Regions from separate parts of the Homo sapiens genome. Here region 2 is linked to region 1. A link means that fine-mapping ties the variant in region 1 to the expression of a gene that starts in the linked region. Tissue or cell type: monocytes. Region 1 holds a variant in brackets; the other region holds the start of a gene. All regions are shown on one strand. Distances are between the middles of the regions.

What was found. PIP is the estimated chance that this variant, and not a neighbour inherited with it, causes the effect.
Region 2: it holds the start of PDE4DIP, and the variant in region 1 is fine-mapped to the expression of PDE4DIP in monocytes (TOPMed, PIP above 0.99).

What each region holds. Positions count from the first base shown.
Region 1 is chr1:149,043,119-149,048,268 of GRCh38, forward strand. No RefSeq gene overlaps it. Among named protein-coding and RNA genes, the nearest start is that of NBPF9, 58 kb to the right of the region's middle. The variant C/A (reference allele first, on the strand shown) is at 2,025.
Region 2 is chr1:148,841,817-148,846,966 of GRCh38, forward strand. PDE4DIP (phosphodiesterase 4D interacting protein) reads left to right here and starts at 2,612. Exons shown (of 47, transcript NM_001395426.1): 1 at 2,612-2,978. The coding sequence starts at 2,959. RefSeq lists enhancers at 2,061-2,782, 2,783-3,505.

The sequences.
Region 1 (5,150 bases):
TTCAGATATGCCCTGCCCCCAGAGGTGGAATCTAGAGGCAGTAGGCCTTGCTGAGCTGCAGTGGGCCCTGCCCAGTTCGAGCTTCCCTACCACTTTGTTTACACTGTGACCATGGAACCAAGTACTCGAGCCTCAGCAGTGGCAGAACCCCCTCTCCCTGCCATGCTCCAATGTCGCAGGTTGATCTCAGACTGCTGTGCTAGCAGCAAGCAAGGCTCCATGGGCATGGGACTTGCCGAGGCAGGCACAAGAGGGAATCTCCTGGTCTGTCAGTTGCAAAGACAGTGGAAAAAAGCACAGTATTTGAGCAGGAGTGTACTGCTCCTCCAGGTGCAGTCACTCACAGCTTCCCTTGGCTAGGAAAAAGAAATCCCCCAACCCCTTGCACTTCCCAGGTGAGGTGACACCCCACCCTGCTTTGGCTCATCCTCTATGGGCTGCACCCACTGTTCAACGAGTCCCAGTGAGATGAACCAGGTACCTCAGTTGGAAATGCAGAAATCACCTGTCTTCTGCGTCTATCTCACTTGAAGCTGTAGACCGGAGCTGTTCCTATTCAGCCATCTTGGAAGCAACCCTCTTTTTTTTTTTTTTTGTATTTTGGTAGAGACAGGGTTTCACCATATTGCCCAGACTGGTTTCAAACTCCTGAGGTCAAGCCATTCTATAAAAGAAAATTATATTTGTTTTATCTGAGTTCCTTCCTCAGGAAAGGACTCTCAGTCCTCTCAAAAAGCATCAGAGACCTGAAACTCAGCCAATCACAGCATCCAGACAATGAGATGCCAGTCCCCTCACTCATCACAAGTGCTTCCTCACCCCTCCCTAGTTTCTCTCTTCCCACACACAGTTACATTTCTTCTGTGCTATATAAACCCCTAACTTGAGTCAATCAGGGAGACAGATTTGAGACTCAACTCCTGTCTACTCAGCTGCAGCACCTGATTAAAGCCTTCTTCCTCAGCAATACTCAATGTCTCAATGATTGTCTTTCTGTGTGCTGAGAACACTGAAGCCCTGGGGTTTTGGTAAAAATACATGTACACTTTTAAAAACCGCAATTAATGGGTTGTGGTATATTGAGAAATTGGAGTGGCATCAACTTGGCCAATTCTGAGGAAACACACTGTGCTTAAGTGTGAGGGCCCTGCCTCCTGACCTCGACAGTTTATGGTTGATTTTGAGGCACAGCAGGGGAGTATGGCCTGGTTTGAGTGTTTTATAGAAATGTAAAACATGGCTGATTACTTTTTATTTTAAATCCAACAAATCTCCATTTCTGGTTAGAAAATCTTGCCAAAACCAACCAAACAAATGCATAGAAGTATATGAAGAAGGAAATGAAAGATTCCCTGCCTCCCAATCCCACTTGCTTGGTGTCAGCCATTATTTATCACATGGAGGAAGGGGGAAAGGCACCCAGGAAGTCCCAAGTCCTGTTCTCACAATCATCTGGCCTCCCTGGGCAAAGGGAAAAGAGGGAAGGCAAAAAGAATATAGCACTACGGTTTGCAGAAATTTCCCCTTGGTACAGGAAACTCTGGTAAACTGAGAGAGTATGTTTTCCATGAGGGAGGCCTCAAGGGCTCTTCTCTGGCCCTAAGCCCAAACTGGATTTTGCCTCATTTTCTGAGGTGCAAATGAAATGATAAAAGTTGATCAAAGGAGAGGGCAGAGAGAAAGAGGATGACTCCTCTCTCACAGGTCCACCTTCCTTGGTGTTGCTTGAGGGATCAGAAGAAATGCCTTAACATAGGTGTGTGGGAACTATGGCTGCTAAGTATGAACTCAGTTACCTCCAGTTATAAGCTAGTGTGAGGTTCCATGGTGTAATGGTGAGCACTTTGGACTCTGAATACAGTGATCAGAGTTCAAGTCTCACTGGGACCTTTCTGTATAATTCCAGTGAGGTTCCTCTCTATTGCTCTATAAGCAGAATGGGGGAAATTGCCCAATCATGGTCACAGACCCTCCATGCCACTGGCTGTGTGCAATTGGAGTCCCGGACCCAGCGACCAGCAAGA[C/A]CCCTCCCCTCTCAGGGTGACCCTGGGCCTCCAGGTCACAGGTCTCCACTAAAAAGGCTGCCTCCCCTCAATCCTAGACCCCGAGTTTTCTTTTGTTCACATCATTGGGCCATTGCCCTACATCTCTTTGGAAGAAATGACCTATATGAAAAGCTTTACTTCTGGGATTCCCTAATTCCTTCATCCCTTAGGACAGTGCAGTTTTTCATCTCCTGATCTTGGGTCCAGTACTAAAGCGCGCGTTTGATTTTGTTTTCATGGGATCCCCTCCGACCAGCTACCAGTGGATTCCTGTCCTTGGGGTCTCTGTGGACGGCAACTAGATGCTGCTCTTGTCCCAAATCCTGACACCTCCCTCCAGCCAATTGCCTCCCTTAGCCTCCTAAATCAGCCAATATTTAGATTTGAGCCTGGAATCCCAGCATCTGTGGAGAATAGAGGTTCCTGATCCCTGGCCAGCCTCCCGCAGTGAAGGGGAGAGGAGCAGAGCAGCTGGGAGGGGCAAGTCCAGGGCCCTGGGCAACCGCCTTCTTCCTGCCCAGACTCTGCTCCAAGGAGCAGTTGCCTTAGGACCAGATCAGATGGACACTCTTGTTCTCTTCTCATCAGCAGAAAAATTTAGGCAAGAGCTCTGGAGGACCTTCCTAGCTCATAAAAATGCTGTGGTCAAGTCTCTCCAGTTTTGGAAATGTCCAAGGTTACCAAGTGTTTTGAGGGCTCACTTTGGAGCCTCTGAAAAGGAGGGGTCAGGGCCCATGGAAGGTACCTGAGGGATTCAGGAGAGAGAGGGGAAAGAGCAGACAGGAGGGAGGAGAGAAGGAGGGAGGGGGAGAAAGGGTGTGTGAGGGCCAGGAGCCAGGATTCACCCTGACAGTTCAGTGACTGCTCCCTGACCCCAAAGTTCCCACTGTGGCACCTTCCAGCAGGTGGTTCCCATCTCTTATTGATGTCCTGAGAACTTGGCTCTGCAGAATGGTCCCACCCTATTTGTCTGGCATGAGTCCTGCAAAGTTTCTTTTCATCGTTTGGGGGATGAGATGGGGGTATATAGGTTTGCAAGTGACTAGGAGCTAAGTCAGGACCTTGTGGAGCCACTCAGAGTTAACTGTCAAGTAGCCTCCTTTCCCCCTTCCCTAGCAGGACGATTGCCTGCAAGACAGGGCCTGGAGGAGGCCAGGGCACCCAAGGCCACAGAAATGCCCAGGGATGAGTCCCAGCTGGAGATGCCTTGGCTAAGCTGACTGTGCACTTCCAGGGCTCACAGGGGTCTGGCCAGGAGACTGAGCAAGGGGACCAGGGAGGTTGTGCAGAGGCTTCTGCACAGCAAGGCAGACATTCTTCTTGGAGCCCCCAACCCAAATCAGGTCTTCCACCTCCTCTTCCTAAAGACCCTTTACTGCTGTCGTTCTTTTACTGAACTACAAGTTTAGAGGACATGGATTTCAGTGCCCTCATCTGGCCAACCATCTTCAGCTGCCAATGGACAAGGTAACCTCCCTCCCTGCCAAGACCTGACTCAGGACCTTTCCTTAAGGAGATGTCCTGTTCTTTCTTTCCCACCAGAACTGCCCTGGCCCAGACCCCATTTCTGTCTGGTGACCAGGACAGTCCCCTCACCAGTCTCCCAGGTTGGGGAGGGCAGATTCTCCTCAGCTCCCTGCCCCTGAGAGACCCCAACCGTCTTGTGTGGCTCCGGCCCACAGAGTGATATCCATGGCCCATATCTCTCAAAACTCTCCCCTCCCACTCTGAATCCACCCTCTACTGCATGCTCCCCTCACAGAACAGACTAATTTTTGTGTGTGTGTCCTTGTTTTGCCTACCTGTACCCCAGATAGACTTTTCTGTCTTAGAACTACCTGTCCCTCTTTGGACAGTGTCTTCCTGGTACTGCACATGAAGATGTCCCGCTCTCCCCTGCTCAAGGAGAGAGTGCCTGACCTGAGCTGGGCCCATCAGATCCAGTACTTACCTGGAATAGGAAAACGATGGGGAGGGTGACCAAAGATTGCAAAAATCTTTGAAGCTTATCTACTTGAGAGAGAGTCCCTGAAGATACTGGCCTCTCATTCCTGCTATGTATATCCAATGTGACTGAACTCTGAATAAAATATACAAGTTATAACAATGTAGCAATTGACCCAGCAAATGAGGACACAAACGTGTTGGAGGGTAAGGTGGTGAGAGGCGTGTTTGGGGGTGGTGGTGATGAGCAAGTATGTGAAGGAGAGGTAGTGCCTAAACTTGAAAATCAAAAAGTAATAATATCTATTTAGACATAAGGAGATAAATAACGAAATAATTGCTTCTATGTGATGAAACTCTGGGAGTACACAAGGGGACTGCTACTTTACTAAACAAATTTTCAAGTATATATAACTTTGATAAGGTATCCAAATAAAATAATTCCTTTCCCATATAAGTATGTGTATATATGTATTCATTGTATTTTGAAGATAAATTTTTACACAGTCATGTTAATCGCTTTCATTTAAGGATTTGAGTTTGAGGTCTTGCATACAATGTGATCCCACTGTATGACTACACAAATGTTGGCAAAAGTGAGTTCAGAGGAAGTGGTAGGCAAGTACTTCCCAGTTTTGGCCAGAAGATGGAGAAAAAAATAATTCTCAAAAAATGTTAAAAGTATGACATGTTATATCTTCTTTTCACAGTAATTTAGACAGAAATTAGCAAAATCAAACATGTATAAATACTTTGGTCTGACAATTCCATCTCCAGGTGTCTACGGAGAAATAAACAAGTGATGCACGACAGATACATGTGTCAGTCTGGTCCCTGCAGTTGTATTTGTAATAATACACATTGGAGCAATTTCATGGCCATCAGTTAGAGAATGTTTGAGGAATGATCCATTCATATCAAGAAGGACATTTCAAAGATCAAAGCCTGATGGAAATGCTGGAGACCATGGAGCTGATAGGAGCTCATGCGTGTTGACCAATTACTACGTGACAGGCATTGGCTCCACGCTTTTCCTGCACTGCTCATTTAAACACTGGACAACCTAAGTGTTCTGATTTAGCCCATTGGACAGATAGAAATGGAGGCACAGAAGATTCATGTGTTTAACTTCAAACCCTGGCAGATTAGGTTTTTCATCCA
Region 2 (5,150 bases), 200 kb before region 1:
CTCACAGTTCTGAAGGCTGGACCAAGATCAAGGTGCTGGCAGATTCAGTGTCTGGAAGAGCTTGCTCTCTGCTCCCAAGATGGCTCCTTGTTGCCACAGATGCTGTGTCCTCACATGGCTGGAGGGACAGAGGACAAAAGGGACCAGAGCAATCCTTTCAACCTCTTTTTTAAGAGCACTAATCCCATTCATGAGAGTGGAGTGTTCATGCCTTATCACTTCCTAAGACATATTCCTAAAAGGCCCCACCCTGTAGTACTATAACACTCGGTGTTAAGTACCAATGTATGAATTTTGAAGGCATACATACATTCAACCATAGCATAATTCAAAAAAGGAGAATGATAAAGGCAGAAAGCTCTTCATTAAGGCATTATTTATAACAGTCTAATATCAGAAACAGCATAACTATGCAATAGTAGAATATTTTAAGTAATCTATGGTCCTACTAATATTATAAAATATTGTACACTCATTAGAATAATAACTATGAACTTTCCCTAAAAACATGGACAAATATTTACTAAGTGAAAGAAGGAGAATATAAACATATACCTAAGCTGTAATCGTAATTATGTAAATAGATATTTAATATATATAGATAATGACTAAAGGGAATTTGGAGAAATTTAAACATTTGTGCTGTAGCAGTGGTTATATGGGTGAATATTTTTCTTCTGAAATCTAACGCAAAAAAATTGTTCTTTTGACAATAAGTATAATTTTTAAAACAACAAGGAAATTTCTCTTCTCAAGAATATACCCATGTGTGTAAGAAAGAGTTGGTGTTTGGATTAAAAGATGCATTTTTTAAAGAGTGGGAAAAAAATGCAACACATTTTTAATATTGAAGATCCCTGGGTATTCTGAGTAATCTATATAACTTTCTGTATTTTTCAAATGTTTTTACAATGAATGTGCTATAAACTTTTGAAAAAAGTTATTTTAAAAATACATGAACGTATTTTCTAGCGTCACTTCTGAGACCCCACAGCTCACCTAGTTAGTGCTATCATTTCTTGAATCCAGTGAGCTGCCTGTAGACAGAGTTCCTCTCCACAACTCGGTAGCCCATAATTTGATTTGAGACAAAGCTAAATATAGCCCCAACTTTGGTATGAAGGATGGGAATCTGACTCTCCCTGCCTTTTCTTCCCCCCCATCAGAGGCAACAGGATATTCTTTTCAAGACAGGTGGCCTGTGAGCCTTGTCTAAGATCAAACTGGACCTTGAAATTTTTCCTGGTAACATTTTGAGCTCTGGAGCAGTGTGGTCCTACCAATAAATCAAGTGTTGGAGGAGTCTAGACTAGGGGCTTTTTAGACAGTTCTGCTAAACCTTCAAATGTTTTGTTATCCTCCCCTCCCCACCCCTACTTTGTACTAGTATGTAGGGGAACCAATCCAAGAGATAACAGACAGATGACAGGTTCCCCCAAGAACACAGACTCCCCACAGTCTCACCAATACCCAGGCATGCCAGGTTCTTCCTGAGTTAAATGCCTAGGAGGCCTGAAAGAATAAATTCATCCTGGAGAAGTCTTGTGGGTCGTAGCTTTAGAAATTCAGGGAACATATCTCTGGGGCCACCCAATGGAGAACACAGCCTGTATCAGAACCTTAGCAGAGACTTTGGGCCTTTTGGGGTCTCAAATTTATCATCTCTGAAACAAGTACAACGAAATTAACATTGCCACATGTGGGCACTATAAAGCCTTTTTCAGATAAAAAAAAAGGTCAGTGATAGTGCTAATAATAACAGTGATTATGTCATTTAATAAAACGGTCTTATTTGAAAGCTAAAAAGGAGCTTCAGGGTGGCAAGCACTCTAATTATAGTATGTCTGCCTTGTTTAAATCTTGATACATAAGTACATGGTACAGGGCCTGAGGCAATGCCATCTCCAAAGAGGCCTTTTCCATGATCTTAAAACAGTCACAAGGGAGTGTCGAGGTCCTGATGGCTACTGTCTTGAGGCTTTTCTAGTGTTCTGGGAGTCAGGAAGCTTCTCCCTCCTTGAAGCTATTGGTAGAGCCCAGTTGCTGGCGAAACTGAAAAACGAGGAGGTAGAATACCCTAAAACAGGAGATGTCTGGGATACAGGCAGCTAATAGGGCTGTAAGGTTTTGTTGGGATGCTTCCCTTCCTGATGAAGGGTCCTGTCCCTGGATTAATGGTGAAACTGGCATGTCACATCTCTAGGAAGACAACATCGTGTTCCATGACCACGTAGGGTATACATCTGCATTCAGCCGGGATTGCTCCTAAACCTTCCTAGACTCCATCTCTGGCTCTGGGGTTACCTGTGGGTGGGGCGATGCAGACACACAAGAAAACCTCCTCTACAAATTCTTCCTGTAGTTGGTTGATTGTATTCTAAGACCTTCGTTGGGATGGGCGAGGGACGGGGCTTGGTACCGCGTCCTCTAAGCTCTCTGCCCTCTGCCGTCATCATTCATCTGAGCCAGCGAGAGAGGGGTCGGGGAGACGCGAGGGTGGTTCAGGGGGCGTGTAACCTGGGCCGATTCTGCCCCAGCACACTGGTTGTCGGGAGCCCCGCCTCCGCTCGCGGTTGACAGCTCAGCTGGTGCCGAGCAACTCGTGCCAGCCAGTCGTGTCTCAGCCTGGAGAGTGCGCGCACCGCGGCCCGGGCAGCCGCTGGCTCCAGCTCACGAAACAGCCCCGGGCGCCGCGCCGCTCTGAGTCCAGCCTCCTACTGAGAACAGTCCCTCCCTTGTGCGGGTCGCACGGCTAGCCGCAGGTTCGGCCACGTCAAATCCATTTTCTAAAAAAGCAGGGAGCAGAGCTCTCTCTTCGCCGCCGACGCAGAAAGGAGCTGGGGAGGAAAAAGCTGCTGCCTTTTGCGCTGGAGATTCGTGGGCAAGGCTTCTCATTTTCCCAGGCTGCTTCCCCTCCCGGGTGAGGAGCGTCCTGAGACTAAGGAAAGAGCCTGGAAAATGGAGCAGACCTGGACGAGGTAGGTGGGCTGTTTCCTTCTCGCCGCGCTCCAGACTTGGTGGTCCTCCTCCCTCCCCTCCCCCAGCGCCCTTAGGGAGAGAGAGGTCGCCCCTCACCACCAGGGTCCCGTGACAGCTTCCCTTTTCTGTAGCCTCGCCCTGCCTGGTTCCCAGCCCACCTCTCTTGGTCATTTTCACATGTTCTGTTTTACGGGGTTTCCCTTGCTTAATGACTCTCCCCTCCACCGAGTCCTGATGTTAAAAATACCCAGGGAGGCCGCCTGGAACTTTCTGTAGAAATGGTTCTCTGTCGTTTCCTTGTTCGTGTGGCTAGAGGGATTCCAGTAGGTCTTCTTGAGAGATATGTTTGATGTCAGATGCTTTGAACAATATCAGGTTTATTCTCACCCTGCCACGTTTTCCTTCTCAGCCTCATCTGTCACTACTCACACAAAGGCAAAGGGACTGAGTGAGCAGAGCCCAGCAGCACTCATCTCCACAACCTCCAGTTGGAGCCCACTTGGGGGAGGAATGGAGAAGGAAAGAGATCAGGGCACCACACTGCTCAGGCTTTATTGAGGCCAGGCAACAGTTGGCTTTTAGGTCAGATTTTGGAGATGGCCTGTGAAACTGCGTTTTCTTCCAGTCCTTCCCCCAGACACACTTTAAAATGAAGCCCCATTCAAGGAAAGGGTAAGGATAAGAGACCATGTATTGAGACAAAGACTTCGTTTCTGTTTTTTAGTGGGTGGGAGGGTAGGGAGACTATTCCAGCGGTGTCTCTATAACAGATACGCTTCCATCTGTGGGATTTAGCTTTGGAGAATTGGGGTGGGGCCAAATGAGCGCTCTGACTCCTGAGAGAGTGAAGACGGTACAAACACAGAAGGTAAATTTGGGGCTTATGCAAAAGACTTGGGTGCTTTTAGTTGATTGCTAAGCTCAACAGGAGTGAATGGTATAATGTGAATATTAAAGAAGGAGCAAATTGAAGCTTAGGGTTTGTTGACAGAAGAAGTAGGCTGTCTAGATTCTGTCTAGATCAAAAGTGATGATTTTACTTTTGGCTCCTTTCTGCTCCTCTTGGGCCTCTCCGAGAGGGCTGTGCTTAGTTCTGGGCATCATTAGATAAAATAAGTACAATCAAGAGACAGGAGGGAACTCAAAGCCATGCCTTGAGGGATGGCCAAAGGAAGGACCTGGGACTCCTGAGTCCGGAGAAATGACGACTGGGAGTGGGGAGGATGTGGTAGCTTCCTTCAAATTTCCGAAGAGCTATTGGTGGTAGAGGGATTGAATCACATTAGAATCTCTTAGGAGGACAGAACAACCGATGCAAGCGAGTTGTTGGGAGGCGAGTTATGGCTCAGTGTAAAGAAAAAGCTTTCTGGCCAGGTGCAGTGGCTCATGCCTGTAATCCCAGCACTTTGGGAGGCTGAGGCAGGCGGATCACCTGAGGTCGGGAGTTCGAGACCAGCCTGACCAACATGGAGAAACCCCATCTCTACTAAAATACAAAATTAGCCGGGCGTGGTCGCACGTGCCTGTAATCCCAGCTACTCCGGAGGCTGAGGCAGGAGAATCGCTTGAACCCGGGAGGAGAAGTTTGTGGTGAGCCGAGATCAAGCCATTGCACTCCAGCCTGGGCAACAAAAGCGAAACTCCGCCTCAAAAAAAAAAAAAAAAAAAAAAAAAAAAAAGACCAGGCGAGGTGGCTCACGCCTGTAATTGCAGTACTTTGGGAGGCTGAGGGGGGCGGATTACGAGGTCAGGAGATTGAGACCATCCTGGCTAACACAGTGAAGCCCCGTCTCTACTAAAAACACAAAAAAAATTAGCCGGGCGTGGTGGCGGGCGCCTGTAGTACCAGCTACTTGGGAGGCTGAGGTAGGAGAATGGCGTGAACCCGGGAAGCGGAGCTTGCAGTGAGCCGAGATCGCGCCACTGCACTCCAGCCTGGGCGACAGAGCGAGACTCCGTCTCAAAAAAAAATTAAAAAAAAGCTTTCTAACAAGTTAGCTGCCTGGGCAGTATGGGCAGTAAAGAGATTGTTGACCCTGGAGTTACTCAGGCAAAGGCTAGATGACCACTTGATGGTGATGGGAGTGAGTGTATCAGGGCCTTTTGCTCTCTGCCAGTGTTTTTCACACTTGAAGAAAAAAGTATTATTTATTAAGTTTTAAAAATTTTAT